Regions from separate parts of the Homo sapiens genome. Here all the other regions are linked to region 5. Evidence: fine-mapped expression QTL. A gene starts in region 5. Each other region holds a variant in brackets. All regions are shown on one strand. Distances are from middle to middle.

Region 1 (6,108 bases), 21 kb before region 5:
CTCCGCACCAGGAAGCATGTGGATGGACCGGCCCTCCCCCGAAGCCTGCAGACCCTGGAACTCACCCCCAGGACCCCCTCACCCCCTACAGAGGCCTCCAAAACCCTCTCTGGCTTCTGGGACCCTGGCACCACTGCTCCTGCACCCCAGGCCCTGGGGTGGGAGGCCGTTCCCAGCACATGAGTCAGGGTGCAGGGGGGCGGGGCCGCCCCAGGGGGTTGACTCAGAGGGCCTGCACTCCTGTCAGCGCATGTCAGGCTGGGGCAGGAGCGGGTGTGCAGGGAAGAACCAGGGGTCTGGAAGAGCAGAGGCCTGGATGGAGAGGGAGCGAGGGTGGGGGGCCCCTGGTGGGGGTGGGGTAGTGGGGGGCCCCTGGTGGGGGGGCCCTGGACCAAGCAGGGCTTGTGCCCAGAAGGTCTCCTTCTAGCACCACAGCCAGCAAATGGGCTCTGAGGCCCTCTAGCCTCTGGGACAAGCCCCTGGTAGATGGGGGTGGGGATAAGCCTAGGAGGGCTGGGGGTGGGAGCTGAACATCTATGACAACCTCTGGGCTTCTCTCACGAGCTCATCGGACAGCCTCTGCTTCTCCCTGGACCCTGGACCCTGGCTCTGGGCTCTCCTCCAGGGCAGACCCTTGCCCCCTAGCTCCGTCCCTGGAAGATTTTTGCCTTAATGGGGCTGGGGCAGGGGTCTGGCGTGAGGGCCGGGTCAGGGTTAGGAGGCAGCATTAAGGGTGAGGTCAGTTCTGAGGGGAGGAAGCTGGAGAGTAGGAGTCGGAGGTCAGCGTGGGGGGTTAAAGGGGGAGGGGAAGGTCCACTGAAAGGATGGGTGAGGCCCGGGCTGGGGCCACCAGGTGGGGTCGGGGTGGTGGGGAAGGGGTGGGAGACCTACCCGGCTCGTGGTCCGGATCCCGCCAGCCTCCCAGCTCATCCCAGAGGCCACTGCTGACGGCCGAGGTGTCCAGGACTCCATCCCTGGCCCGGCGCGTGCGGGGCAGCCTCTGCGGCGGGGACAGGACTGTGGGGGCCTCGGAGGGCGGGGTGGGAACGCCCAGCTCATCGGACTGGCTGATTCCCTGGGAGACAGGTTTCGTGTGGAAAAATCCTGGGAGACAAGTTTGTGCGGCGCAGAGCGGGCCTGGAGGTATGTGCCTGGCATGGGCTGGGTCCCGCCCTGCACCCAGGTCCACCCCAGGCCCACCTGGGGCCCTGCAGGGGCCAGGCTGGGCGGCATGAGGGGGAAGCCAGCCTGGAGGGCCTCTGCAGCCCAGTCAGGCCGAAGGGCTCACAAGAGGACTCAGTGAAGGGGCTTCCGTGCGGCTGGAGCTATGATGGGAACGCCGGTACCCCGCGGCCTGCAGGGCCCCCAGGGCCGACTCTGCCCACCTTCCCTCCTCCCCTTGGCAGAGAGGGCTGTGGGTGCCCCCCCCCAGAGCTGCGGCGCCTCCCTGAGGATGCGTGGTGCCCGCCAGGCACAGTTTTGGCAAAGCCAGGAATCTGGGGTGCACCTTCCCTCACTGCGGCCGGGCCAGACGGATGGCGATGCCTGCTAGGCCACCGCTGCAGCTTCCAGCTCCAGGCTCGGCGGAGTCTCATCTGATCCCTGTGACCAGCCCTGAGGGTCGCACTCTCCCTGGAGCCAGCTCCTGACACAGGAGCCCTGGAGGGGGGCTTGACGGTAGGCTTCCTGGAGGAAGCGGTTGTCTGTGGGGCCCGGAATCTGCACGGAGCCTCGGGCCGCTTGGGTGCACAATCAGGTTGAGAGCCTGGAACCTGAGGGCCTCGAAGGGTGAGTGAGCGCTGCTCTTAGATGGGTCCTGGGTGGGGTGTGGCCTGTCAGTCACCTCCCAAGAGGCGGTGGGAGAGGGCGCAGGAGGGCTTCGGGGCATGGTGGGCTCAGCGTGGGGGGCACGGGAGGCGCTCACAGAGAAGGTCGGCTGGGCCCAGGTCGTGGGCAGAGCTGCCAGGTGCGTGCCCGGAGTTGTGGGAGGGCACAGAAGACAAACCTCCAGGGCAGAGCCTGCGTGGGTGGAGGGGGTTGGGGTGGTCGTCTTAAGGAGCAGAAGGGGGAGGATCTGGGGAGAAAGGTGTGAGGACGTTGGAAGCAAAATATAGTCAAAGCCGAATTCAGGAGTGAGCCGGTGCACAGAGAGGCTTGGGAGGCTGCCTCAGGTCCCACCGCCTGCAGGGGCGGGGTTCGGAGTGCATTAGGGGAGCCCCTTGGTGGTTGATGGACCCGGCGTGGGGGCACAGCTCACCCAGAGGCAAGCGTCCTGGCGCTTCCTGTTGGCGCCCACGCTTGCAAACCTTCTGACTTGGGCTCCAGCCAAGTCCAGCCCCTCCACGGAGCCTGCCCGGCTGCCCATGGGCACCACCCCTCACCTTGTGGAGTGTGGCCCCTGCCCCGCGCCTGTGGCTGGGGCAGCTCTGAGGTCTCTGGCCTTGGTCCTTGGCATGGAAAGTAGCTGAGGGGTATGGCCCCTGTAGGCTCTTGGGGGGGACACCTTTCATCTGCACACACCCCGTCCACTGCCGGCCTGTTGGTCAGTCT[G/A]TCCATCTGTCCGTCCACTACTTGTTCGTTCATCAGACGAGTCCCGGGCTCTTGCTATGCCCCCGGCGCTCCTCTGGGGAAGGGGGCGTCTGTCTGAGGCAGGCGGGGCATCTCCCGGGGGTTCTCCTGGGGTCTGGCCTCAGGACCCCGGCGCTCCTCTGGGGAAGGGGGCGTCTGTCTGAGGCAGGCGGGGCATCTCCCGGGGGTTCTCCTGGGGTCTGGCCTCAGGACCCCGGCGCTCCTCTGGGGAAGGGGGCGTCTGTCTGAGGCAGGCGGGGCATCTCCCGGGGGTTCTCCTGGGGTCTGGCCTCAGGACCCCGGCGCTCCTCTGGGGAAGGGGGCGTCTGTCTGAGGCAGGCGGGGCATCTCCCGGGGGTTCTCCTGGGGTCTGGCCTCAGGACCCCGGCGCTCCTCTGGGGAAGGGGGCGTCTGTCTGAGGCAGGCGGGGCATCTCCCGGGGGTTCTCCTGGGGTCTGGCCTCAGGACCCCGGCGCTCCTCTGGGGAAGGGGGCGTCTGTCTGAGGCAGGCGGGGCATCTCCCGGGGGTTCTCCTGGGGTCTGGCCTCAGGACGGTGTGTGGACCCATTCAGTTAGCCCCAAGTGTTCCTCACCAAATTGCAGCTGCTAACAGGTGGCGGCCGCTCCTGTTGCTTTCCTGTTATAAACAGGTGGCGCTGTGGGGCCAGGTCCTCCTCAAACAAGGCGGAGGAGGGAAGTCCTGGGAATCGGGGGCCTGGCCTAAGAAGGTGCCTTCTGAAAGGAAAAAAGCTAACCCCTCCATGGAGAGGTCCCTGTATTCACAAGACTGTGTTGATTCCTGACATGGTGGAGGAAGGAGGCCTGAGATGCCACTCACAGTTGTGCCAAGAGATGGGGAGGGGGGCCCAGATTGGAGAGGAGAACTCTGGAGTCCAGGACGAGGTCCATCCTCCTTCCCTTGACCCCTACAATCCCTGGGGTTCCTGGATGGCAATGGTGGTCTGGACGACTGTAGCTGGGGAGAGGAGGCTGGGGACCCATCAGTCCTGCTGTACCATTTGGGAGACTGGCCCGAGGTCCGGCAACCCACGTCTCCAGGGATGGTCTGTCCTCCAGCGGTCCCCTGTGGGCGGAGGATGACCCAGGTGCCCAGGCAAGAGACTGAAGGCACAAACTGTTTCAGTATAATAAAGAAAATAGAATAAGAATAGTCATAATACAAATTAGATATAGAGATGCTCATGGACAATTATCAATCATTATTATAAACATTATTAGTCATTAGCTTTTAATATTACTCTTTGTTCCATTACTATATAACCTAGGAATAAGCGGTGGGTATAGGGTCAGGTGCTGAAGGGACGTTGTGAGAAGTGACCTAGAAGGCAAGAGGTGAGCCCTCTGTCACGCCAACATAAGGGCCGCTTGAGGGCTCCTTGGTCAAGCGGTAACGCGAGTGCCTGGGAAGGCACCCGTTCCTTAGCCGACCGCGAAAGGGAGTCTCCTTTCCTTGGAGAGGTCGGGGAACACTCTGCTCCACCAGCTTCTTGTGGGAGGCTGGATATTCTCCAGGCCTGGCCCGCAGTCATCCGGAGGCCTAACCCCCTCCCTGTGGTGCTTGAATGATCACACTCCTTGTCCACTTTCATGCTCCTCCCGTACTCCTGGTTCCTCTTTGAAGTTCGTAGTAGATAGCGGTAGAAGAAATAGTGAAAGTCTTAAAGTCTTTGATCGTTCTTATAACTGCATAGAAGACAACACTGATGTATGCTGCCTTTCCTCTCTACTTCGGCTACCTAAGAGGGAAGGGTCACCGTAAGGTGACTTGCTTCACCTTATCACTTAGAAGATTCACCCTCCTTATCCTGCCCCCTTGTCTTGTATGCAATAAATATCAGCGCGCCCAGCCGTTCAGGGCACTACTGGTCTCCGCGTCTTGATGGTAGTGGTCCCCCAGGCCCAGCTGCTTTCTCTTTATCTCTTTGTCTTGTGCCTTTATTTATTACAATCTCTGGTCTCCGCACATGGGGAGAACACCCACTAAGCCCCGTAGGGCTGGACCCTACAGTCCCCAAGGCAAACTGGACAGGGTCAAGGTGGCCTCCCTGCACTGTCTGGAAAGCCCCTCCTGAAGGACCCTCCTCCCTGCACTGTCTGGAAAGCCCCTCCTGAAGGACCCTCCTCCCAGGACTGTCTGGAAAGCCTCCTGAAGGACCCTCCTCCCTGCACTGTGTGGAAACCCTCCTGAAGGACCCTCCTCCCTGCACTGTGTGGAAACCCTCCTGAAGGACCCTCCTCCCTGCACTGTGTGGAAACCCTCATGAAGGACCCTCCTCCCTGCACTGTCTGGAAACCCTCCTGTGGGGCCCTAGCCCAACACATTTGCAGCAGTCACAGGTGTATCTAGGGATCCTGGGGTCCATGAGCCCACAGGGCAGCTGTTAAGAGCCTTTGCCTTCTTCCTATATCTCCTCTCTCTTTTCTGGACTTCCTCCCGGTTCCCACTGGAAAAAACTGAGGTGGCCCCTCCCAGGATGCCCCCAAAGTACCATCTGGTCCCACAGCCCATTCCCGCATCCTCCTTCTGACATCAGGGGCCGCCTGTGCAATGAACTCATCTCCTCATCCCCTAGGACCAGCCGTTCATTGACTGAGTCAGGAGACAGAGAGGCACACTTCACCAAGGCCCCTGCCATCCCCCAGGAAGGCAGTGGGGCCAATCCCTGCTCTACCATGGACAGCCTGGTGCAATCAAGAGGCCCAGCCCCTTTCTCTCATAAGCCCTCCAGCCAAGTGCAATGAGAAGCCCAGTCCCATTCCCTCACAAGCCCTCCAGTATCACATCTGAAAGTGTTTCATCCTCCATTCTCCCATTTTATCACTGGGGTCCCATTTAGGGTCCTCCAATGGTACTGCTATTCATCCAATTGGATAAAGCTTCTCTTCTTCCCTGGCCCTATATAAGATATACAGCTCATCCCCCAAATTCTCTGCCGCTTGCGGGGTGGCCTGCTTTTCAGCAGTCAGGGTTTGATTCAGAAGTAACATGATATCCTTCCAGGAGAGCTCAAATACTTGGGTTAAGTTCTGGAAAGCCTCCATGTATCTGTCAGGGCCATCTGAAAACTTGCCAAGATCCCCCTTAATTTGACTCAGAATGGCCTAAAATGAGGATTTCTAGGCTGGGGAAAGCTTGAGAGAGAACCTGAGTAGGGAGGAGTGAAGGGTTTGATTCCTCCACTGGAGGTGCCTCTGGGGTTTGCTTCTCTATTTCCCTGGGATTGCCTCTTGCAGCCTCTCCTGAGATGGCCACCAGGAGGGCTGGATCAATCCTACAGTAGAGGCAAAGGTCCAAGTTACCCTGCAAGGCAAAGAAAGCCTGCACACACGAGGCCTGGGATCACTGGCCCTCACATTTACAGAAAAGCTTCCTCCCAAGACCATGCTTCCCTTCTGTGTCTTACACTTACAGAAAAGCTTCCTTCCTGAGACCATGCTTCTCTTCTGGGTCTCACGTTTACAGAAAAGCTTCCTTCCTGAGACCATGCTTCTTTTCTGGGTCTCAAGGTGCTTGGCACC
Region 2 (4,879 bases), 70 kb before region 5:
TGAGCGGGGGTGAGAGAGGCAAGGCAAGTGGGGGCGTTGGTGCTGGCTCTGTCAGGGGCTCTGTGCCATCCTGCTTCCCCCTAGGACCAGGTGTCATGAGACCCATCTCACAGTGGAAACCCCCTTCCCGGGAACTCCAGCCTAGGAATTCCCCTCTGGCCCCTGACCCGCCATCTGGGCTCCAGGAAGGTGTCCCAGGCTCCAGGGGCTGGGGTACTCTCCTGGCCTGGATGCTGGCTCCGCCCCGACTACACCCAGGCGCGGCAGCTGCAGGACGCTGGAGGAGGAGGAGGGAGGGGCGAGCCCCACGCGGAAGTCAGGTAGGAGCACCCGCCGCTGGCAGCCACTCTCCTGGCCGCCAAACCCCAGCTGGAACTCCGGCCACAGCCAGCATGCAGGTGAGTCCTGCGCTCAAAAGGGTCCACACCTTCAAGGCCCCCAGCCACGCCCACACCTGGGGCCCCCGGCCCCAGCCCCCCGCCAGCCCCACCTGGAAGGCGCCTGTGTGTGTGGGGGGGGTCCCTGCAGGCTGCCCGGTCAGGCGAGGGTGACCGCCCGGCTCAGCTAAGCTGCCTCCTGGACTCCTGGGGCACGCTGGGGGTTGGAAGTGCTGGAGGCGGGCGGCGTTCCTCCCTCCAGCCCGGGATTCTGAGGGCACCAGGGCTGGGCTCTCAGCTAGTGTGTGGGGCCAGGAACCTCTACCAGAGTCCTGAACACGAGATGGAGAGGGCCTGCCCACCGAGGCGGGGGCTGCTGCTGAGGACCCCAGACCTGGCAGCTTTGCCTTGCAGCTGGCCCCTAAGGGGGAGCGGGCTGTGGGCACCAGGCAGGCTGCCCCAGGGTTGGGAGCTGCAGAGTGGCCGGCGGGCTGTGGGCTCTCTGCTCCCCAAGGACCCCGCCCAGCACAGGTGGGGGCCGACTGCTGCTGCTGGATTCCGATTCTGGGGGTGGGCGCTGACTGCTGCTGCTGGATTCCGATTCTGGGGGAGGGAGTGCAGGTGAACACGTAGAAAGACATCCTTTCTCCCCTCTGCCAGTGAAGAGGTCACCTGGGGCCAGGGCCAACACCTGGGCAGGTCAGCACCTGGTCGGCCCAGGGAGGAGGCAGTGGTGAGGTGTGGAGTGAAACCAGCCTCCCTCTCGGCCTGCCAGGGCCTCCACGTGTGGGCTGCGCCGGCGGCCTCTTGCTCCATCTCCGCCCAGGGCTCTCCTCGGCCCTCCACATCCAGGTCTGACACCCTGGCTGCTCAGCCCAGCACCTGATGCCCCTTAGCCTGAGCTCAGGGTCCCCTCTGCCAGCCCCTTCCTCCCATGCTGGGGGTTAGAGGAGAGACTTGGGGCTGGCCAGGGGTTGGGTTGGGAGAAGCAGCACCTGGTTTGTTGGAAGTGAGAGCATCAGTCCTTCAAAAAAGACAGTTGCAGCCGGGCCTGGTGGCGCATGCCTGTGGTCCCGGCTACTCCGGAAGCTGAGGCAAGAGGATTGCTTGAACCCGGGCGTCGTGGCATGCACCTGCAGTCTCAGCTACTCAGGAGGCTGAGGCAGGAGGACTGCTCGAACCCGGGCGTGGTGGCGCGTGCCTGCGCTCCCAGCTACTCGGGAGGCTGAGGCAGGAGGACTGCTGGAACCCGGGCGTGGTGGCATGAGCCTGCGGTCCCAGCTACTCCGGAGGCTGAGGCAGGAGGGTTGCTCGAGCCTGGGAGTTCTGGGCTGTAGTGT[G/A]TTAGGCTGACTGGCTGTCCGCACATCAGTATGGTGACCTCCCAGGAGCAGGGGACCACCAAGTTGCCTAAGGAGGGGTGAACCGGTCCAGGTCGGAAACGGAGCAGGTCAAAACTCCTGTGGTGATCAAAAAGGACAGTTGCAGACATGGGGAGGACTTGCTAGTCCCAGCTCCAGGCTGGATCTGGGCGTGCCTTTCCTCTGCTCTAACCCCTTCCATGGCTCCCCACTGCCCCCTGCTGAAGTCCAAGCTCTCCATTTGGCCAAGAAGCCTAGCAGCCTCCCCTGATTGGCCTCTGCCAACCTCCAGCCTCCCCTTCTGGCAGCTCCCTTCTTGCCCTTTATGCTTCTGCAAAGCTGAAGTACCAAGGACTGAGTCCCTGGACTCAGTTTCCGTAGGTGCCGAGTGCTGAGTCACCAGGAGTAGTAGCTACCAAGTCCTCCTTGGAGGTGCTGAGTGCTGAGTCCCTGGGAGGTGCTGACTGCTGAGTCCCAGACACCAACTGCACCCTGATTCTCAGGGCGTGCCCACACATGTTCTTTCTCCCGGGAATGCTGCCCCCATTTTCTCACCTTTTGCCAACCTCTTGCCCTACAATGCCAAGCTCCATGCCTCCTCACCTGCCAAGTAGGCCCCCGCCCCTGCGTCCACGAACGCCACGCACTGCCTGGGAGGGCTGCACGCAGGTCGCTCCGTCAGTGTCTGGGGATGGACGGGCACACGGATGGGTGAACTGACAGATGACAGACTGGACAGCTGGAGGGGCCGGGGGGTGGGCAGAAGACTGGCTTCAGGAGCGCAGAGCCAGCTGGGGAGGGTTTGCTCAGAGGATGCGTGGGCTGGGCAGAGGCGAGACGCTGTGGCTCACAAGGTGGGCCTCTCCATGCTTGGGACTGCGGTGGGGCAGAAGGGGACCCTCTGTGGATGACGAAACTGTAAAGTTCTCAAGGGCCAGATCCCAGAGGGCTCAGGGCACCGGCCAAGAGGCTTGACGTGACCTCAGGAGGAGATGAGGCCCAAACACCTTCCCATGCACAGCTGGGGGGATGTGCGTCGTGGGACCCCCTGGCCAGGCCTGCTCCTTCTCATGCACAGCTGGGGGGATGTGCGTCATGGGACCCCCTGGCCAGGCCTCTCAGGAGTAGGGTGGGGTCATATCTGCACAACCATCTCCTCTGCCTGCCCCCAACCTGGAGGCTGGACTGGGAAGAGGATGGATGGGCAGGACCCCCAGCTCTGTCCTCACACTCCAGCCCTTGGGAGGGAGGGTCTCCTGCAGGCTACAGTGTCTCCAGAAGCTTCCTCACTGGGAACCAGGGGCTTGCCCACTGGACGCTGGCCTATGCCCACAATGGGGGTGCCAAGAGCCCCCCACAAACTCCCTGGGGCCCTGGAGTACTGGGTGTGTCACCTGTGAGGGCTGTGGGACAGGAAGGATGGGGGAGAACAGTGTGTGGTTCTGTCCACCTTCTTCCTGTGTCTGCACGTCGCTGAGGTGACCTGGGGGCTGGGGTGAGGACACCCTGTTGTACAGACGAGGAAACTGAGGCCTGGGGTGTTTCGGTGGCGTCAGAGCTAGGGCCTGGCCGGCTGTCCACCCAGAGCCGGCCTCCCTCTCTGGGTTTGCAGATGGCAAGGCTGGCTGAAGCTTCAGAGGCCCTCAGACTGAGTGTGTAGGGACAGCCCCTGTCCCTACCCTGGGAGCTGGAAGCCTGTGGGCCCATACATAGTTTCCCGGAGGTGGGGCCCATGGACTGGGGACATGGGGGTCCCAGACATCTCACTGTGGATAAACCGAACAGTCTGCATGGCTGGAAGTGGAGGTGACTTCAGGTGGTCCAGCCCTCACCTGTGAAGACCCCGAGGGTGGTGTGGAGAAGCCAGGCTCCCGTGGTCCGTAAACACTGGCCCTGGAGACGGATGGACAGATGGATGGCCTGGTCCTGTAGGCTGGTGGCTGTGGCCCGGGGGATGGGCCGGTGGGTGTGGCTCCGTAAACACTGGCCCTGGAGACGGATGGACAGATGGACGGCCCGGTCCTGGAGGCTGGTGGGCCCAGTGTTCTGCAGCAGAGTCTCGGAGCCTGAGGCCTGTCTGGCTGTGTGTGTTGGGGGGGCTACACCTGCCTGGCTGTGTGTGTCAGGGGGTGGCTACACCTGTCTGGCTGTGTGTGTCAGGGGGGCTACACCTATCTGGCTGTGTGAGTCGGGGGGGGGCTACACCTGTCTGGCTGTGTGTGTTGGGGGGACTCCACCTGTCTGGCTGTGTGTGTCGGCGGGGGCTACACCTGGCAGCCCTAGTGCTTCTGCCTTGTCCGAGGGAGCAGCTAAGGGCAGCCAGGGGCTGGCACGCCCCAGGTGTGCGTGTAGCTCTGCCCTGGGGGGAGGGCTCCCTGTCAGCCCACGTCAGTGATGGGGGCTTTGCACCCCATTCCCCAGGGGAGGCTGATCCTGCTGTTTGCAGAGGCGTGGGGTCATCACCCCAGTGCTGCACGGTGTCTTTGGTGGGGAGGGGGTTTCTGTGCCTCATTTCTGGGGTGAACGATGGCTTCCCACCCCCACCTTTGAGAATGTTCCCCAGGGACAGTCCCCTCTCCCAGGCTTCTCCGAAAGTCCTGCCTGGTCTGGGGTCCCTGCCTCGTCCCTTCCTTCTCAGGGGTCTGGGCTTATCCTGCCGGCTTTCAACTTTCGGCCCAGGCTGATGTGAGGGGGTCTCTAATTTCAGCCTCTGCCAGAGGAGCTGGGGTTCTGGGCAGAGGAGGGACCCTCATCCTGGGTCTGAAGCCAGGCATGTGAGGGGCCATTCTCCCATGAATCCCTCCAACACAACACTTCCCGGGCCCCTACGGAGGCAAGCTGCAGAGCTGGAGCCGTGATGCCCACGTCCCCCAGACCACCAGTCCCCCCCAGGGAGGCTGCCCTCTGCGCTGAGACAGAGGTGCCTCTCCTGCCTGGGCAGGTGCCACGCCCCTTCCTGCATATCTGTCGGAGGATGAAGGTTTCTCCTCTAACCCAGGACGGGGGAGAAGTTTCAGTGTGGCAGGCCACGCCTGAGTGCAGGTATCTGTCCGTGGGCTGTCGGGAAGGCCAAGGAGGGAGTCAGAGGAAGGGTTGATTGAGGCAGGAAGAACTACTGGTCTAGGATAGGACAGAAGGGCCAGG
Region 3 (6,070 bases), 29 kb before region 5:
GGGCCGGGGGTGAGCGGGGCCGGGGGTGAGCGGGGCGGGGGTGAGCGGGGCGGGTGTGAGCGGGGCCGGGTGTGAGCGGGGCCGGGTGTGAGCGGGGCCGGGTGTGAGCGGGGCGGGTGTGAGCGGGGCCGGGTGTGAGCGGGGCCGGGGGTGAGCGGGCCGGGGGTGAGCGGGGCGGGTGTGAGCGGGGCGGGTGTGAACGGGGCCGGGGGTGAGCGGGGCCGGGGGTGAGCGGGGCGGGTGTGAGCGGGGCGGGTGTGAGCGGGGCGGGTGTGAGCGGGCCGGGTGTGAGCGGGGCCGGGTGTGAGCGGGGCGGGTGTGAGCGGGGCCGGGGGTGAGCGGGGCGGGTGTGAGCGGGGCCGGGTGTGAGCGGGGCCGGGTGTGAGCGGGCCGGGGGTGAGCGGGGCGGGTGTGAGCGGGCCGGGGGTGAGCGGGGCGGGTGTGAGCGGGGCGGGTGTGAACGGGGCCGGGTGTGAGCGGGGCCGGGGGTGAGCGGGGCGGGTGTGAGCGGGCCGGGTGTGAGCGGGGCCGGGTGTGAGCGGGGCCGGGTGTGAGCGGGGCAGGTGTGAGCGGGGCCGGGGGTGAGCGGGGCGGGTGTGAGCGGGGCCGGGTGTGAGCGGGGCCGGGTGTGAGCGGGCCGGGGGTGAGCGGGGCGGGGGTGAGCGGGGCCGGGTGTGAGCGGGGCGGGTGTGAGCGGGGTCCGGGGTGAGCGGGGTCCGGGGTGAGCGGGGCGGGGGTGAGCGGGGCGGGTGTGAGCGGGGCCGGGGGTGAGCGGGGCGGGGGTGAGCGGGGTCCGGGGTGAGCGGGGCGGGGGTGAGCGGGGCGGGGGTGAGCGGGGCGGGTGTGAGCGGGGTCGGGGGTGAGCGGGGCGGGGGTGAGCGGGGTCCGGGGTGAGCGGGGCGGGGTGAGCGGGGCGGGGGTGAGCGGGGCGGGGGTGAGCGGGGCCGGGGTCAGCGGGGCCGGGGTCGCAGCACCCACCCCACGCCCCGCTCAGGCTGGTGCCCACCTCGCGCAGCCGCCGGCTCTGCGGCGTGAAGCAGCCCACGACCTCTCCCGGCGGCGCCCCCGCCAGGTCCCTGCGGCCGCGACCCTCCAGCCGCTGCAGCGCGGACGGCGGCATCTCGTCGTAGAGGCGGTAGGACAGGTTCCGCAGGACGCACACCGCGTTCTCCACGCTCTGCGGGCGGGGGCGCGGGGCAGGGGCGCGGGTCAGAGCGGCGGCCCGGGGGCACGGCCCCTCCTCCACACCGCGCCCCTCACCTTGTCCTCGCATTTGCCCGCGTCCAGGGCGTGGTTGATAGAGGTGACCAGGGCGTCCACCAGCCCGTGGCACTCCCGCATCTTCTGGCGAGTGGCCTGAGAGGCTGAGCTGAGGTTCCTGGGGACCGAGGTGGATCAGAGCCCCCCAGGGACCCCGCATCCCGGGCCTTGCCCCAACCCATCGTGGGCCCTCGCACGCCCATCCCCAGCGCGAGGCGTGCGGTGTGTGGGCTGCGAACGCCAGGCCAGGCGGAGTCCCCACAGTGACCCGCGCCTGCAATCCCCACCCCGCTGCCCGAGGCTGGCGCACCTGAGGAAGCCGGTGGCGTTGTAGAAGATCTCTGCCTCCGAGGCGTTCTGCTGGATGAGGGGGGGACCCCCAGCCCCCGACAGGGGGCTCAACACCAGGTCTGTGAGCTGCTCCAGCGTGTCTCTGGCCAGGCGGTCCTTCAGGTGGTCGCTGGATGAAAGGTTCCACAGGATCCCTGGAGGACGGGGGAGGCTGCTATCAGCGTCTGCCCTCCAACCCCCTCCGCGTTTCTGGGGATGGTGTGAAGAGGTCCCGCCTCTCCCCAGGGGCTGGCCTGGTGTTCTGTGCCTCACCCACGAGCCCCACTGGGGAGACCCTGGGGTGGCATTTGAGGTGATAGAGCTGGGACCAAGCAAGAGGGGACAAGATGTGGGGGTGGGGTGGTGAGCAGGCCTGGCAGTGCAGGCGGCTCCAAGGAGACAAAACCACAGGACAGGGTGGCCGGGGGTCCAGGAAAGAGGCGGGCAGTGGAGGCCCAAGTAGAAACACGGCCGGCAAAAGGTACAAAGGGACGGAGGGGAACCGAATGAGGTGGAGGGGTCAGAACGGAGGAGAGAGGACAGGCAGAGGAGGGACAGGAGGAGGGGGACAGGCAGAAAAGGGGGACAGGTGGAGGGGGGGACAGGTGGGGGATAGGCAGAGGGGGCAGGTGGAGGAGGGGGGCCAGGTGGGGGGGACACAGAGGGAGGACAGGAGGAGTAGGGGACAGGCAGAGGGGGCAGGTGGAGGAGGGGGCAGGTGGAGGAGTGGGGCAGATGGCGGGCAGGTGGGGGGGTAAGGCAGAGGGGGGGAGGAGGAGTAGGGGGGCAGGTGGCAGAGGGGGCAGGTGGAGAAGGGGGGCAGATGGTGGGCAGGTGGAGGGGGGCAGGTGGGGAGGAAGGCAGGGGGGATAGGCAGAGGGGCGCA[G/C]GTGGAGGAAGGACAGGTGGAGGAGGGGACAGGCAGCACCTGTGACATTTTTGCGAAGCTCATCATCCTGCTCCCGCAGTGTCCGCAGCAGCTCGAAGATCCCGTTCTCCTCCACCAGGGCCAGCTTGTTGTCAGCGTTGTCGTAGATGAGGTTGCGCATGGCACCTGTGGCATGGCGCTGCACTTCCTGGTTGGCGTGGTTGAAGAGCTTCACCAGCCTAGGCACGGCCTGAAGGCTGCGGGCCTGCGGGCACAGGCATATGGGGGTGCACAGACGCATGTGGATGGATGCAGACTATGCACCTGTGTGCAGCTGTGTCCAGGTGCGTAGATGTAGATATGCAGGGGATGCAGCCGTATAGGGAGGTGACGGAGGTGTGTGCGGCGGTAGGGAGGTGACGGAGGTGTGTGCGGGGGTACGGAGGTGACGCAGGTGTGTGCGGGGGTACGGAGGTGACGGAGGTGTGTGCGGGGGTACGGAGGTGACGCAGGTGTGTGCGGGGGTAGGGAGGTGACGCAGGTGTGTGCGGGGGTACGGAGGTGACGCAGGTGTGTGCGGGGGTAGGGAGGTGACGCAGGTGTGTGCGGGGGTAGGGAGGTGACGCAGGTGTGTGCGGGGGTAGGGAGGTGACGCAGGTGTGTGCGGGGGTAGGGAGGTGACGCAGGTGTGTGCGGGGGTACGGAGGTGACGCAGGTGTGTGCGGGGGTACGGAGGTGATGCAGGTGTGTGCGGGGGTAGGGAGGTGACAGAGGTGTGTGCGGGGGTACGGAGGTGACGCAGGTGTGTGCGGGGGTAGGGAGGTGACGCAGGTGTGTGCGGGGGTACGGAGGTGACGCAGGTGTGTGCGGGGGTAGGGAGGTGACGCAGGTGTGTGCGGGGGTACGGAGGTGACGGAGGTGTGTGCAGGGGTACGGAGGTGACGCAGGTGTGTGCGGGGGTAGGGAGGTGACGCAGGTGTGTGCGGGTGTACGGAGGTGATGAGGTATATGTGGGGGTAGGGAGGTGACGCAGGTGTGTGCGGGGGTACGGAGGTGATGAGGTATATGTGGGGGTAGGGAGGTGACGCAGGTATGTGCGGGTGTACGGAGGTGATGAGGTATATGTGGGGGTAGGGAGGTGACACAGGTGTGTGCGGGGGTACGGAGGTGACGGAGGTGTGTGCGGGGGTACGGAGGTGACGCAGGTGTGTGCGGGGGTACGGAGGTGACGCAGGTGTGTGTGGGGGTATGGAGGTGATGCAGGTGTGTGCGGGGGTACGGAGGTGACGGAGGTGTGTGCGGGGGTATGGAGGTGATGAGGTATATGTGGGGGTACGGAGGTGACGCAGGTGTGTGCGGGTGTACGGAGGTGATGAGGTATATGTGGGGGTACGGAGGTGATGCAGGTGATACTGGTGTATCCAAATTGTATCCTTCTGCTCTTCCTCTGCTGAGGGGGCTCCAGACAGAGTGGGGTCTACCCAGTCAGCTTGGGGATCATGAGGGGTGCTCAGTGAGCAGAGGACAGTGGGAGGTGGTGGGGCCCACGAAGGAGGTCACCAGGGGGCAGCGAGTGGGTGGTCGGGGTGGTCACCTGCTTCTTGGCGGCTGCATCGCTGTAGCACTTGTGCTGGATGTAGGCCGCTCCCAGCACCTGCAGGTTGGGGTCTGAAGCCATGAGGTACTTGACTGCTGAGGGCAGGTCAATGTCATCAAAACTGCGGAGCCAGGGGTCAGGGGTCAGGCTAACTTTGGGTTCAGGCTGGGCCCGTGGTAGAAGCCCCCTCCCTGAGCCGGGCCCAGCCGCTCACCCGCTGCTGAGTCTCTGCAGGGTTCGGTGGCTACCGTAGCTGTTGAACCCATGCACGTCCGGCAGGTGGCCCGAGTCAGCCAGGCTGAGGCTGAGGCTGCGCACAGATGGCGCTCGAGCCACTGGCTCCAGGACGGCCCCCGGCACTGCCCCGCCTACCCCGCGGCTCCGGTGGCTGCTCTGGAATCGCTGCAGGGTCCGCACGGCAGGGGCACGGATGGTCCGGCTCGGGGAAACCTCAGTGGCCTCGGGCCAGTCCAGCCCCCCTGCCCGGCTGGAGCTGGAGCTGGCCTGGCGCTCGTACGCAAAGGCCCTGTAGGTGGAGGTGGCCGCGGGCTCCAGCTGCTCAGACACCAGGCTGTAGCGGTCGTCCAGGCCCCCGGGCCCCAGCCGCAGCGAGCGCAGGGAGAGTGTGTCATAGTCGGCCCGGCTCCCAACCCCACCGCGCTCATGGAAGGACACGGGCCTGGTGGGCATGGGAGGGGTGGGCTGGGCACCCCCGTACCCAGCGGCCCCAAAGGCGCTGCCCCCGTTGTGGGCTGAACTCAGCCTCCGACTGCAGCTCAGATCCACGGCGGAGCGGGAGGACCAGGAGGCTGGGCTGTAGGCCGGCTTGGCGATGGGCCGGAAGCCCTGTGGGTCGAGAGGGGGCGGTGAGGGCGTGCCTGGGCTCACCTGTGTCCGGGCCCGCTGCAGAGCCTCCCACTCTCCAGACTGCAGAGCTCAGATCGTCCCCCTCGGGCTGGGCCCATCGCTCACCGAGGTCTTGTCCCCACTCAGGCCCTGAGAGCGAGAGCTGAAGCCAGCCTGCAGGGTGTGGTACTGCCCCCTGGATGTGCCTGTGGAGAGGGACGGTGGTAGCCCAGCTCTGCCACACAGCAAAGCACTGGCCTCCTGCCTCCTCTCCACCACTCCATCGCTATTGGCAACCCTAGGAGCAGCCTCCAATCCAGGGCAGGGAGGCCAGGGGGGCACCAGGGCCAGTGCCTCCCCATTCCTGCCATGGCTTGGTCTCCTCACATGTCAGCCCTGGTGGTCCATCTTCCACAGCCCACCCCCCAGCTGTGCCTCCTCTACCCGAGAGGGCAGATACGCTCACCCACTGACCTCCTGGTCGCCAGGAGGAATGTGCCAGGGCCTCTGACATCAGTTCTCCAATCCTTGCCATGGTACAGTGCCCAGCCTCCTCCAGGAAGCCAGCCTGGCCTGCCCCGGCCCACACTGACTCCTTTTGAGCCCCTCCTGTGCCCAAACCTCATCTGTGCCCGGTCACAGGAGAGTGACACTGTCTCCCTGGACCAGTATGCCCTGTTGCAGTGCCCTGTCCCACCCGGCAGAGCCTGAGGCAGGGGCCACACCCACCCCGTCCAGCCACACACACGCCAAGGGCAGCTGCGTCAGCCCGACTCCACAGTGAGTGGACAGACAGGTGGGTGGGCAGAGGGTGGAGGGCGGAGGGTGGATGGAGGGACAGGCAGGAGGAGGATGGGAGGGCTGCTGTGACTGCTGGAAGGATGGACAGAGTGGTGGATGGAGGGGTGGGACAGCCGTCGACGACAGGGTCCCATGGTTGGATGGTGAGTGGGCAGAGGGATGGACTCGTGGATGGGTGCAGAGAGGATGGGCTGATGGTGGGGGCATGAGAAGGCCCACCAGAGCGACCTGGCTGAGGGGCTCAGGGTGGGGTGCAGGGAAAGGGGCCGTGGCCCTCCCACAACTCTGCCCAGAGCTGGATGCTCTGTGGGGGACACCCCCATGGCAGAGGCCCCAGGTTCACCCTGGTTAATGGGGCTTCTGGGCCGGGG
Region 4 (4,362 bases), 35 kb before region 5:
TCTTCGAGGCCGAGTCCCTGAGGGCCGGGCCCTGGACTCAGAGGTGGACCCGGACCCTGAGGGCGACCTGGGTATGCCCGCCCAGCCCCACTCCCCAACTGGAGAAGCTCAGCACAGGGCGGAGTGGGGGCAGGCACAGGGCACAGGGCCTGGAGGGGCTCCAGGTGTTGAGGACTCTTCCCGGCACCGGGAGCCCCTGCACGGCCTCTGCCCTGGAGGTGCTCGGCCCTCGGTCTGCCTGGGAACTTCCTGGGCCTCACAGGCCATCACAGCAGGGGGTGAGCAGGGGCAGCCCCTGGCAGTGGGTCTGGGCCAAGGCTGTGGGTGGCCACCTCAGGCGTCTCGGTCTCCCCACCCCAGGTGTCCGGGGGCCTGTCTTTGGAGAGCCATCAGCTCCACCGCACACCAGTGGGGTCTCGCTGGGAGAGAGCCGGAGCAGCGAAGTGGACGTCTCGGATCTCGGCTCGCGAAACTACAGTGCCCGCACAGACTTCTACTGCCTGGTGTCCAAGGATGATATGTAGCTCCCACCCCAGAGTGCAGGATCATAGGGACAGCGGGGGCCAGGGCAGCGGCGTCGCTCCTCTGCTCAACAGGACCACAACCCCTGCCAGCAGCCCTGGGACCCTGCCAGCAGCCCTGGGAAAAGGCTGTGGCCTCAGGGCGCCTCCCAGTGCCAGAAAATAAAGTCCTTTTGGATTCTGCTGGGGCCTCGGTCTCCTCCCTTGCGGCGGAAGGTTTCGGATTCGGCTTCCCTCTGCGGCTCTCTCAGCCTTCCACCCCTCCTCTCTCATCCCCACCCCTCCCTCTCTCATCCCCACCCGCCAAATCACCAAATCTGCCCTCTCTCCATCCCCCTTCCTAAGCCAGCTCAGGCGTGTCCCGTGCTTACAGTAGCCTCCTTGGGCCTCCTTGCCTGGTCCCTGGTTGGGGACGTGACTCTTCCTAGACCCTTCCCATGCAGGCAGATCCTGGATGGGGGCAGGCTCCTTAGAGACCTCAAGTTCTGAGCTTCACAGAAACTTTCTGTTTTAAGAATATCCACAGTAACTTCACAACTAAATGGCCTGGCTCTGGGTGAGATGGATGGGGGTGTCCGAGAGCCCACTGGACCCCAAACCTCAGGCAGCCAGTGTGAGAGCCCCTGGTCCAGGCAACTCCAGGCCCAGGGTGGGCGGCGGAGGAGTTGGGTTCATTTGCCGCATGAGTGTAGCCCACGAGGCAGCCACCCTGTTCCTACTCCAGTCACCCCTCTACTCTCGAGGCCCCCAGCTCTGCTCCGTCTGTGCCTGTGGTGCACCCGCTGTCCACCCTGTCCCCTCTCGGCCCTGAGGTGCCAGCTGTCCCTCTGCTGGGCTCTCCATGTCCTATGTCCTCTGATCTTGGGAGGCTTGTGTGTGAGCCCAGGGGGTGGGTGTCCTCAGGGGCAGGGGGTGCCTGGGGACACCTTGAGTCCCAGGATCATGCTGCCAGCCACAGGGTCGGGCCAGCCATGGAAGGACACAGGGCAGTGACTGTTCATGGCCATCTTTATTCCCAGTGCTGGCTATCCCAAGATACTGCCAGGCCACAGCCAACCCCCACCTCTGCCAATGTGACTGGGTCACCACCCCATACACCAGAGCAGCCTTGAGCCCTGCCCCACCCCCTGCCCTGCGGAAGCCAAGTCCCCAGCTATAAGACCCTGCCCCTCCTGGTGGCCCAGGACCCTCAAAGATGCACACAGGGGCCCCAGCGAGGGGCCCCTCCGTCATTAGCCTTCTCCTCCAGGCTGGGCTGCCAAGCAGCCTGGAGCTGAGTCTGTCCCTTGGACGCTGGGCCACGTCACCTTCTCCTCCAGAAGGCTTCACCTATGGGCCCAGGAAGTCCTCCTTCCGATAGCCCTTCTACAGTGGAGAGAGGCCCAAGGTCAGGGTGCATGTCTGCCCATGTGGCCCTCTGCCCGCTGTCCCTCCTGCAGTGTGCTGGGTGTGGCCCGGACCCTTCCTCTCTGGGTCCCTGGTCTCCATCCTCCCATGGGCCTCTTCACTGACCCTCCCCCGGCGTCCCATGCCCTGCACCCGGGTCCCTGCTTGCCCTGGGCTCGGGAAACGTACCGCCCG[G/A]AAGTCACGGTGGAGCTTGTTGTACTGCCACAGGTTGGCCAGGAGGCTGGATGCTGCCCGGGAGGACTTCTCACTGTCGGGGCTGAGGGTGGAGGGCAGTCAGGAGGGGACACACAGCCAGAAAGCAGGGTGGACTGGGAGGACCCCTGACCAGGCTGCTGCACGGCTGGGTCGGCCCCTACCTGTCCCGCTTCTTCTTGATGAAGATGAGCTTTCGGAGTCCGTCAAAATACAGCAGGTCTCGGGCAGCGATGGGGCTGGCCACCACCAGGTTGTTGAGCACAGCTATGATGTTGACCAGCACCTCGGCTGGGGGCGACTTCTCACCCACGCTGCCCGGCAGCTTCTCGATCAGGTGGCTCACCACCTTCGTGGCTGTGGGAGGCCGGGGGTCAGTCTGCACCCCTACTCCTGGCCACCTGGGCACCTGGGGTCCCCTGCCTCCCCCAGGGAGCTGGACTGGCCCCAGTGGTCTGAAGCCCACACTTAAAGACAAAATTGACATGTGGGTCCAGCAGGGCAGGGACGAGGGGCTGCCCGACTCACACATCTCGTCCTTGTTCCTAGCGTTCCGAGACAGGTTTCGGATGAGGCCAGTCAGTGAGCGCAGCTGGTGGTGGTCGGCGGTCCTGACACGGTCTAGCAGGGGGTTCAGAATACGCTCCTGCTCCAGGGCCAGGCGGCTCAGCACCCCCGCCCACTGTGGGGAGGGAGGGTGTGAGCCGTGACCCGGAGGCCTCAGACCCTCACCTGAGGGGGTCCTGCCACAATGGGGTCGCTGCATCCTCTCGCCACCCTCAGGGGGGCCTCTGCTTCTGCCTTTGCCCCCCAGCCGGGGGGAATCAGCCGCAGCCCGGATCAGGTGCCTCCCTTCAAACCCAGGGCAGGACTTCCATCCTCCCAAGGCCCAAGGCCTGCGCCACCGGGACGCTGACCTCCGAGGCTCCGCGGACCCTGGGCGTCCCCTTCCTCCTCCCCTCCCTCTCCCTCCTCTGTCCCCCCCTCAACCGCATGAACCCCTGGGACCCCCTCGGGTCTGGGTTGGGTGCCCCACCCTGCGGTCGCCTGCCGTGATGTTCTGCAGCGCCCCGGCGGCCGCCTCCGTCGTGTGCCGGTTGAGCTCGCAGCGCTGCAGCAGCCGGTTGTACAGCCCCACGATCTGGGGGCTCCACAGCCACTCGAGGCCCTTGGGGTCCTTGGACACCTCCGCGAAGGTGAGCGCATCGGCGGCGAGGGGCAGCTGCGCAGGGCGGGGAGGAGTCGGCGGGGTCGGGGTGAGCGGGTCGGGGTGAGCGGGTCGGGGTGAGCGGGTCGGGTGTGAGTGGGGCGGGGGTGAGCGGGGTCCGGGGTGAGCGGGGCGGGGGTGAGCGGGGCCGGGGGTCGGGGGTGAGCGGGGTCCGGGGTGAGCGGGGCGGGGGTGAGCGGGGTCCGGGGTGAGCGGGGTCGGGGTGAGCGGGTCCCGGGGTGAGCGGGGCGGGGGTGAGCGGGGCGGGGGTGAGCGGGGCCGGGGGTGAGCGGGGCCGGGGGTCGGGGGTGAGCGGGGTCGGGGTGAGCGGGGCCGGGGGTGAGCGGGGCCCGGGGTGAGCGGGGCAGGGGTGAGCGGGGCGGGGGTGAGCGGGGTCGGGGTGAGCGGGTCGGGGGTGAGCGGGGCCGGGGGTCGGGGGTGAGCGGGGTCGGGGTGAGCGGGTCGGGGGTGAGCGGGGCCGGGGGTCGGGGGTGAGCGGGGTCGGGGTGAGCGGGGCCGGGGGTGAGCGGGGCCGGGGGTCGGGGGTGAGCGGGGTCGGGGTGAGCGGGGCCGGGGTCAGTGGAGCCGGGGGTGAGCGGGGCCGGGGGTCGGGGGTGAGCGGGGTCCGGGGTGAGCGGGGCCGGGGTCAGTGGAGCCGGGGGTGAGCGGGGCCGGGGGTCGGGGGTGAGCGGGGTCCGGGGTGAGCGGGGCCGGGGTCAGTGGAGCCGGGGGTGAGCGGGGCCGGGGGTCGGGGGTGAGCGGGGCCGGGGGTCGGGGGTGAGCGGGGTCCGGGGTGAGCGGGGCCGGGGTCAGTGGAGCCGGGGGTGAGCGGGGCCGGGGGTCGGGGGTGAGCGGGGTCCGGGGTGAGCGGGGCCGGGGTCAGTGGAGCCGGGGGTGAGCGGGGCCGGGGGTCTGGGGTGAGCGGGGTCGGGGTGAGCGGGGCCGGGGTCAGTGGAGCCGGGGGTGAGCGGGGCCGGGGGTCGGGGGTGAGCGGGGTCCGGGGTGAGCGGGGCCGGGGTCAGTGGAGCCGGGGGT
Region 5 (6,108 bases):
TCCACACAGCCCTAAATGCCCGTGAGCCCCAGCCATGCAAACCCTGACCTGTGGCACCTGGCACATACACTCAGACACCCTGGTCACTCTAGCCCAAGCAGATGCTTGGCCACCCCACACACTGACCGGCCGGCACATTCATGCACCTGCTGCAGCCCCCAGACACAGAGCTCCAGACAGGATGGCTGGTGCTGGAGCTCACACAGACAAGCTGTGCCGTGCCCCACATGTCCTGTGTCTCATGCCCCCTGCTGCGTCCTCCAGAATGGACAGGTTCTCAAGACACCAACACACAAGTGGCTTCGGGGTCTCGTCTCCGTGCACACGTGTTCTCCCCAGGGCTCTGCTCACCGCTTGCTCCTCTTCACGGCTCTCACTGGAGTCCTCAGCCCTCTGTGTGGATGGCGCAGCGTGGACCCCCCGGCCGTCGGTCTCACTGGTCAGCTTCTCACCATCTGCAGGTGGCACATGAGGCCTGTCTCGGGCCCAGGCTCTCTCCAAGGCCATTCTGCCTGCTGCTGGGTTCAGCTGGGCCAGGGACCCACATGGCCAGAGCAGGGCAGGCAGGCTGTGGTGTCTCTCACTAAAGCCTCTCCTTCTCATCTGCTTCCTCTGCCACCAGATGCCCCTCCCCCCAGCAAGGCAACTTCTTCTACACCCCACCTCTGGTGGGGCAGCCCAGGCTGAGCCTTCCAGCAGGCTCTTCCCAACCTCCAGCAGGTGTGAGGGAGGAAAGCCGGGTGGGCCAGCTGGCGTGTGTAGGCACCCACATGCACCTCCATCTGGCCATTCTTGTTGAGTGGCTCTGCCTCCAGGAAGACCCCAGGACTGCCCTGTGCCCTCAGCACTTTCTCTGTGTGCTGGAGTGTTCCACGTCTGCCTCCCTTACCAGAACTGAGAACTCAGGGTTAGTGCCAGGGACTGTAGTCTCTCCTGAAGGATTTGAGCTCTCAAAGTCTGGACTGAGGAACAGGCATGGATGCTGACGCCCAGGCATGGCCCTGGAGCAGAGGGTGGCCCTGGATTGAGTGTCCTTGGGTAGGAGGACCAGGAGGGGCAGAATTGGGGTGAAGAGAAGCATCCCTACAGATGCTCAGATCCCAGGGCGTGGAACCCCCTGGGGCTGCAGTGGGGATGTCTAGGTCCTCAGCTTAGGGAGGTCCAGGAAGTGGAGAGGGCTGGGGTGCAGAGCTGGCCTGCCCAGGCTTGTGGGGAGGCAGTAGAGATGTCCACAGGCAGATCTGGGAAGGGTCCCCCAGGGCTCCCCTGACTTGGGCCCCAGGTCCCCCGACAGAACAGTCTGCTCACTCGCCCTCTCCCTGGGCAGCTGTTGGGCTCCTCTGGTCCTGGCCCTAGCCTCAGAGGTAGCAAGTGTACAGGTGCCCTGGGGCGGAGCTGGCTTAGCCTCAAGGGGTCCTTGGAAGAGGGGTCCCTATGCCTCCGCCCCCTCCTGGTTGGGCTTAGACCCCTGCGCTGCTCAGAAAACCACAGAGGAGCCTGCAGAGGGGGCTGGTTTTGTTCTGTGTCACTGGGCCAGCTGTGGATCCTGCCCTGTCTGCTGATAGCTGGGGTGGGGCTTTTTAGGGATTCAGCAGTATCGGGGGTCTCTTGAGGGTGTGGAAGCTGTGAGGTATGTGGGTTGGGACAAGCCCCAGACCCTTGGCCTGTGTGGGTCCAGGCGTCCCGGTACAGGAAGAGAACACAGGGGCTTTGGCAGGTGGAGTGGCCCAGGAGTCCCCAGCCAGTATCATTGTTCTGCCCCCTCAGGACACCTGGCTCCCTGGAAAAGGCTCAGAGGCAGCCAGCTGGGGTCTCTCCTGGTCTGGGCATGGCACTAACCTCCCTCCTCCAGAGGGGGCATTCTGCCCCACCTTCTCCCCCAACCCCACCGCCAGGCTTTCATCTGCGCCTTCCTGTCTGGAATGCTCTTTCCCCCAAAGGTGTATGTCAAAGATCACCATCTCCAGGAGGCCCTACCCCGGCTGGCTCACCGTGACCCCATCTGCTTTGTTTGTGGGTTGGGGTTGGGAGAGTTTACGCCAGGCTCCCCAAGCTGGGCCCCATCCCTACGCATGGACCCCCACAACACTGGCACAGTTCACCGAAGGCGCCCCCGCCGGGAAGCGTCCCAGCTGCACCGGCCACTTCAGCAAGCCCCGGCCCGGGTCCCCAGCACACAGGGAAACTGAGGCCCTGCTAAGCGGGCAGGGGGTGGAGGCGAGGCCTGAGAAGGCCTCTTGGAAGCCTCAGCAGGGTCTAGGGGCAGAGACTTCCCCAGGAGCCCACCGTCAGCCCCTCACTACCGGATCCAAGCCAGATCCCAGAGTCAGGGACCCTCTCTGGGAGGGTCGCGCGCGTCACTGCCGACGTCATCGAGCGTCCGGGCCGAGCCGAACCGCGCCCCCTCCCCCCAAATCGCAGAGCGGAGAACAGCGGGCGGGGTCTCCGGGAGGGTCGGGCCCAGCCGAGACCTCTGTGCGGTGGGAGGCCCGGCCCGCGCCCCGGGGCCCCCGCCGCCCGCGCCGCCCGCGCCCCCCGCGCCGCCCGCGCCCCCCGCGCCCCCCGCGCCGCCCCCGCCCCCCGCGCCCCCCGCGCCCCCCGCGCCGTACCTCGCCCGTAGCCCAGGCGCTGGCGCAGCGCGCGTCCCTGGCGCACCAGGCCCAGGTGCACGTAGGTGAGCCACGCGGCGCAGCTCAGCAGCAGCAGCAGCAGCAGCAGCTTCATCTGCTTACGGATCTTCTTCACCGGGAGCCGCGGCATCGCGGCCGCCGCGCCCGCCCCAGGCCGCGCTCAGCGGCGCCGCTGCAGCCCCCGGCCCCCGCCCGCCCCGCGCCGCATCCCCGGCCCGCCCCGCCGCGCTCAGCGCCCGCGGCCCCGCATGGTCCTTTGTCCGCCGTGCGCGGCCACCGGGTGCGGCCGCGACCCCCCCAGGCCGCCCTCGGCCGCGGGCCCGGGGTGGGCGGCGGGGGCGGCTCCTCGCGGTGCCCCCCGCCCGGCCGCTCCCGGCTCCGCGCTCCTGGGGCGGCGGCGGGACCGAACAGCATCCACGGCTGCCACCGCGGATCGGGCCCCGGCCGCGCGCGCGGAACCAATCGGACCGAGCCAGGCCGCGGGGAGCCAATGGCGGCGCGCGGGGAGGGGTGCGGGGCGCGGGAAGGCGGGGCGGGGCGCGGGGTGCGGGGCGGAGGAGGCGGGGCGAGGGGAGGCGGGGCGGGGCGGGGGGTGCGGAGGGTGCGGGGCGGGGGGTGAGGGGTGCGGGACGGACAGGGATGCGGGGCGCGGGGCGCGCGTCCACCTGGGCCACGGAGCGCGGGGGCGCGGCACACAGACGCGGGGCTGGGAAGCGCTGGGGCTCGGGGACCGTGGGGGGCGGCGGGGGATGGGCACAGCCTGACTGTGGGGCGGGGCGGCCTCCCGAGAACAGTGACCCGAAGGACTGCAGGCGGACAACACGGAGGAGGGAGGGGAGGGACCCGGGGTCCTGGGGGGCGGGGAATGGGGGCGGGCGAGAGAGGCCGGGGGGCGGGGGGGCCCAAGCACCGGCTTCAGCCCAGGGGTGGGAGTCGTTGCGGGATCTCAGCCTGCAGGGCTGGGGCCGCAGGGGGCCGAGCTGTCTGGGCGGCAGGAGGGGCCTCAGCTGGTGGCCCCCGCCCCACCGAGCGCGGCCTGAGGCAGGTGACAGTGTCGTGCCTCTCACCGGGACCTTGTCCCACTTCGTGCCCTTTCTCACCTGGTCTGCACCAACCCCTGCCAGTCCCTCTGTCCCCCCAGTACTTCCCTTGTCCAGCTGCCAGCGTGACCCTACTCTTCTCCCTCTGTCTGCTCAGCTGTCTCTGGGTGTGTAGCAAACCGCCCAGCTTCAGTGCTGTCCAACAGCAGCGTTCCTGTGTTCCTGTGTCCTGTGGGTCAGGAACTCAGGGCACTCGGGGACAGCTCCTCTCTGCTCCTCGAGGTGCTGGCCTCCGGTGGGAAGACGTGAGTGGTGGGGCCGGCTCCGCGGGACAGGCTGGAGCCATCCAGAGACTTCTGCCCCAAGCCAGTGCACCCTCGGCAGGAATGGCTGGGCTCACCCCGGGTGGTTGGCCAGAGCGCCTGCAGGCTCAGCTGCCAGGGGCAGCCTCCCGGTCCAGCACACAGAGTGAAGCATCTTGGAGTCACCCCTCAGGTTTGCCACATGCCGCACGGCCACCCAAGTTCGTGGGTTGTGGGGACGTGGACCCCACCTCACAATGGAAGATTGCCCAGAAGTTGCCTTCTTAAGACCTCAACTCCTTCCCTCCTTCCCCTCCATCCTCCTCCCCTAACTTCTGAGCACAGAAGCAAGCTGGTTACATCCTGCTGTTCATACCGGCCCTTAAACAACACCCGGTCTCTCAAACCTTCCCCCACCCCATCAGCTCCTCATCTCCTGCCTCCTGCAGTCCACTTTTCATATTTCTGTTATCTGCATATTCATTAAAATATAGTGCCCCACCCCTTTTTGAGACAGGGTCTCACTGTGTCTCTGAGGCTAGAGTGCAGTGGTGCAATCTCAGCTCACAGCAGCCTTGACCTCCTGGGCTCAAGCGATCCTCCCACTTCAGGTTCTTGAGGAGCTGGGACTACAGGCATGCATCACCATGCCGGACTAATTTTTTGTATTTTTTTTTTTAACAGATTCAGGGTCTCACCATGTGTCCCGGGCTGGCGTTGAACTCCTGGGCTCAAGTGATCCTCCCGCCTTGGCCTCCCAAAGTGCTGGGATTCCAGGCGTGAGCCACTGTGCCCGGCCAGTGGTGCTCTTTTATGTGTCTCATTCTGTTTCTCCAAGTCCCATATTTTCTATGTGCATCTGTCTGGCTGTGCGTCTAATGCTTTCCCTCTTTCCACTGCATGGCACCCCATCCTAGGCACATTCATCCAGCCAGTGGACGCTACCTAGTATTCTAGTGTCCTGACGAGCCAGGGACTTAGGGGACACAGCAGTGAGCAAGACAGAAAAGGGCCCTCCTTTCATGGAGTTTACATGTTACTAGGCAGGGACAGACCAGTGAACGCATAGTCGCTTTGCTGGTGGTGAGTGACGTGAAGGAGATGAGCTGGGTGATGGAGGGAGGCCGGCTCCCGCTCCAGGGTCGCTCTCTGGGGAGGCAACGGCTGGCCTGACCCGTAAACAGGTTCTTAGAAGGCAAGTGTTGGCAATGTCGGGAGAGACGTGTTTGGGACACTTCATGGGTCCACAGTCAGAGGGTGTCCCCTGTGGATCCAAAGCATAGTAGGTACAATTGAGGGGCGAGCTGGGATCTGCCGGACGCAGATGCTCCATATGCTACCACATCCGTCTCGGCCCCTTCTGGAGAAGAACGGCCACCGCCTCACTTCGGTGTGACCCAGCCACAGAGGAGAAGGTTCTGGGAAATGGGTCTCCAGCTTAGAATAAGAGAACAACCTGGCCGGGCGCGGTGGCTCACGCCTGTAATCCCAGCACTTTGGGAGGCCGAGGCGGGCGGATCACGAGGTCAGGAGATCGAGACCATCCTGGCTAACACGGTGAAACCCTGTCTGTACTGAAAATACAAAAAATTAGCCGGGCGTGGCGGCGGGCGCCTGTAGTCCCAGCTACTCGGAGGCTGAGGCAGGAGAATGGCGTGAACCCGGGAGGCGGAGCTTGCAGTGAGCCGAGATCGCGCCACTGCACTCCAGCCTGGGTGACAGAGCGAGACTCGGTCTCAAAAAAAAAAAAGAGAGAACAACCTGGCAGGTTCCTCCTCTTGACAACTCAGCACAGACGCACACTTCTTTTAAAAAACACATTTAACTTCCAAATAAAGCAAAAAACAAAGTCATGCTTCTACGTAACATGATGCAAATATTCCAACCAGAAGGGACTGAACAAAAGGTTCGTGTCATGTTATCCACATTTGAGAAGACGATCCTCGTTCTTCTAGTTTCTCTAAGAGCGTTTAACACTTGACACTGCAAAGTGCATGTTGGGGGTTGGATGACACAAATACTGAGATGAAATGTAAAGTTAACTGTTGTTAACGCATTTTATGCAGCTAGGAGGGCAATGGAAGAGGAAAAAAGCAGGAAGAACGGATAATGTCAGTACAAGTGTGACTTGTGTGA

Which allele goes with the higher level. Alleles are on the strand shown, and positions count from the first base shown. SD is a standard deviation of normalised expression in the study named. Not every link is listed here.
With allele A in place of G in region 1, the expression in testis of the gene that starts at base 3,065 in region 5 is higher (moderate effect, 0.66 SD a copy in GTEx).

The links. PIP is the estimated chance that this variant, and not a neighbour inherited with it, causes the effect.
Region 1: its variant is fine-mapped to the expression of B4GALNT4 in testis (GTEx, PIP 0.97).
Region 2: its variant is fine-mapped to the expression of B4GALNT4 in whole blood (INTERVAL, PIP above 0.99).
Region 3: its variant is fine-mapped to the expression of B4GALNT4 in whole blood (TOPMed, PIP above 0.99).
Region 4: its variant is fine-mapped to the expression of B4GALNT4 in whole blood (TOPMed, PIP above 0.99).

The regions. Positions count from the first base shown.
Region 1 is chr11:387,492-393,599 of GRCh38, reverse strand. It overlaps a transcript of PKP3 not described here. Among named protein-coding and RNA genes, the nearest start is that of PKP3, 3.7 kb to the left of the region's middle. The variant G/A (reference allele first, on the strand shown) is at 2,551.
Region 2 is chr11:437,440-442,318 of GRCh38, reverse strand. ANO9 (anoctamin 9) reads left to right here and starts at 308. Exons shown (of 23, transcript NM_001012302.3): 1 at 308-398. The coding sequence starts at 393. LOC105376506 (a long non-coding RNA gene) reads right to left here. Exons shown (of 5, transcript XR_007062542.1): 3 at 3,568-4,879; 4 at 2,339-2,420; 5 at 1,646-1,834. It also overlaps the pseudogene RN7SL838P. RefSeq lists an enhancer at 15-284 and silencers at 116-410, 455-534. The variant G/A (reference allele first, on the strand shown) is at 1,718.
Region 3 is chr11:395,642-401,711 of GRCh38, reverse strand. PKP3 (plakophilin 3) reads right to left here. Exons shown (of 13, transcript NM_007183.4): 2 at 5,025-5,104; 3 at 4,267-4,898; 4 at 4,050-4,173; 5 at 2,516-2,720; 6 at 1,571-1,745; 7 at 1,261-1,378; 8 at 1,007-1,177. Among named protein-coding and RNA genes, the nearest start is that of PKP3, 4.5 kb to the right of the region's middle. RefSeq lists an enhancer at 4,800-5,329. The variant G/C (reference allele first, on the strand shown) is at 2,477.
Region 4 is chr11:402,058-406,419 of GRCh38, reverse strand. It overlaps PKP3 (plakophilin 3), which reads right to left. Exons shown (of 13, transcript NM_007183.4): 9 at 3,157-3,342; 10 at 2,649-2,802; 11 at 2,285-2,477; 12 at 2,097-2,184; 13 at 1,512-1,886. The coding sequence ends at 1,851. It overlaps SIGIRR (single Ig and TIR domain containing), which reads left to right. Exons shown (of 10, transcript NM_001135054.2): 9 at 1-71; 10 at 361-704. The coding sequence ends at 524. Among named protein-coding and RNA genes, the nearest start is that of PKP3, 10 kb to the right of the region's middle. RefSeq lists an enhancer at 205-898. The variant G/A (reference allele first, on the strand shown) is at 2,103.
Region 5 is chr11:366,456-372,563 of GRCh38, reverse strand. It overlaps B4GALNT4 (beta-1,4-N-acetyl-galactosaminyltransferase 4), which reads right to left and starts at 3,065. Exons shown (of 20, transcript NM_178537.5): 1 at 2,610-3,065; 2 at 352-455. The coding sequence starts at 2,760. RefSeq lists an enhancer at 3,994-4,532.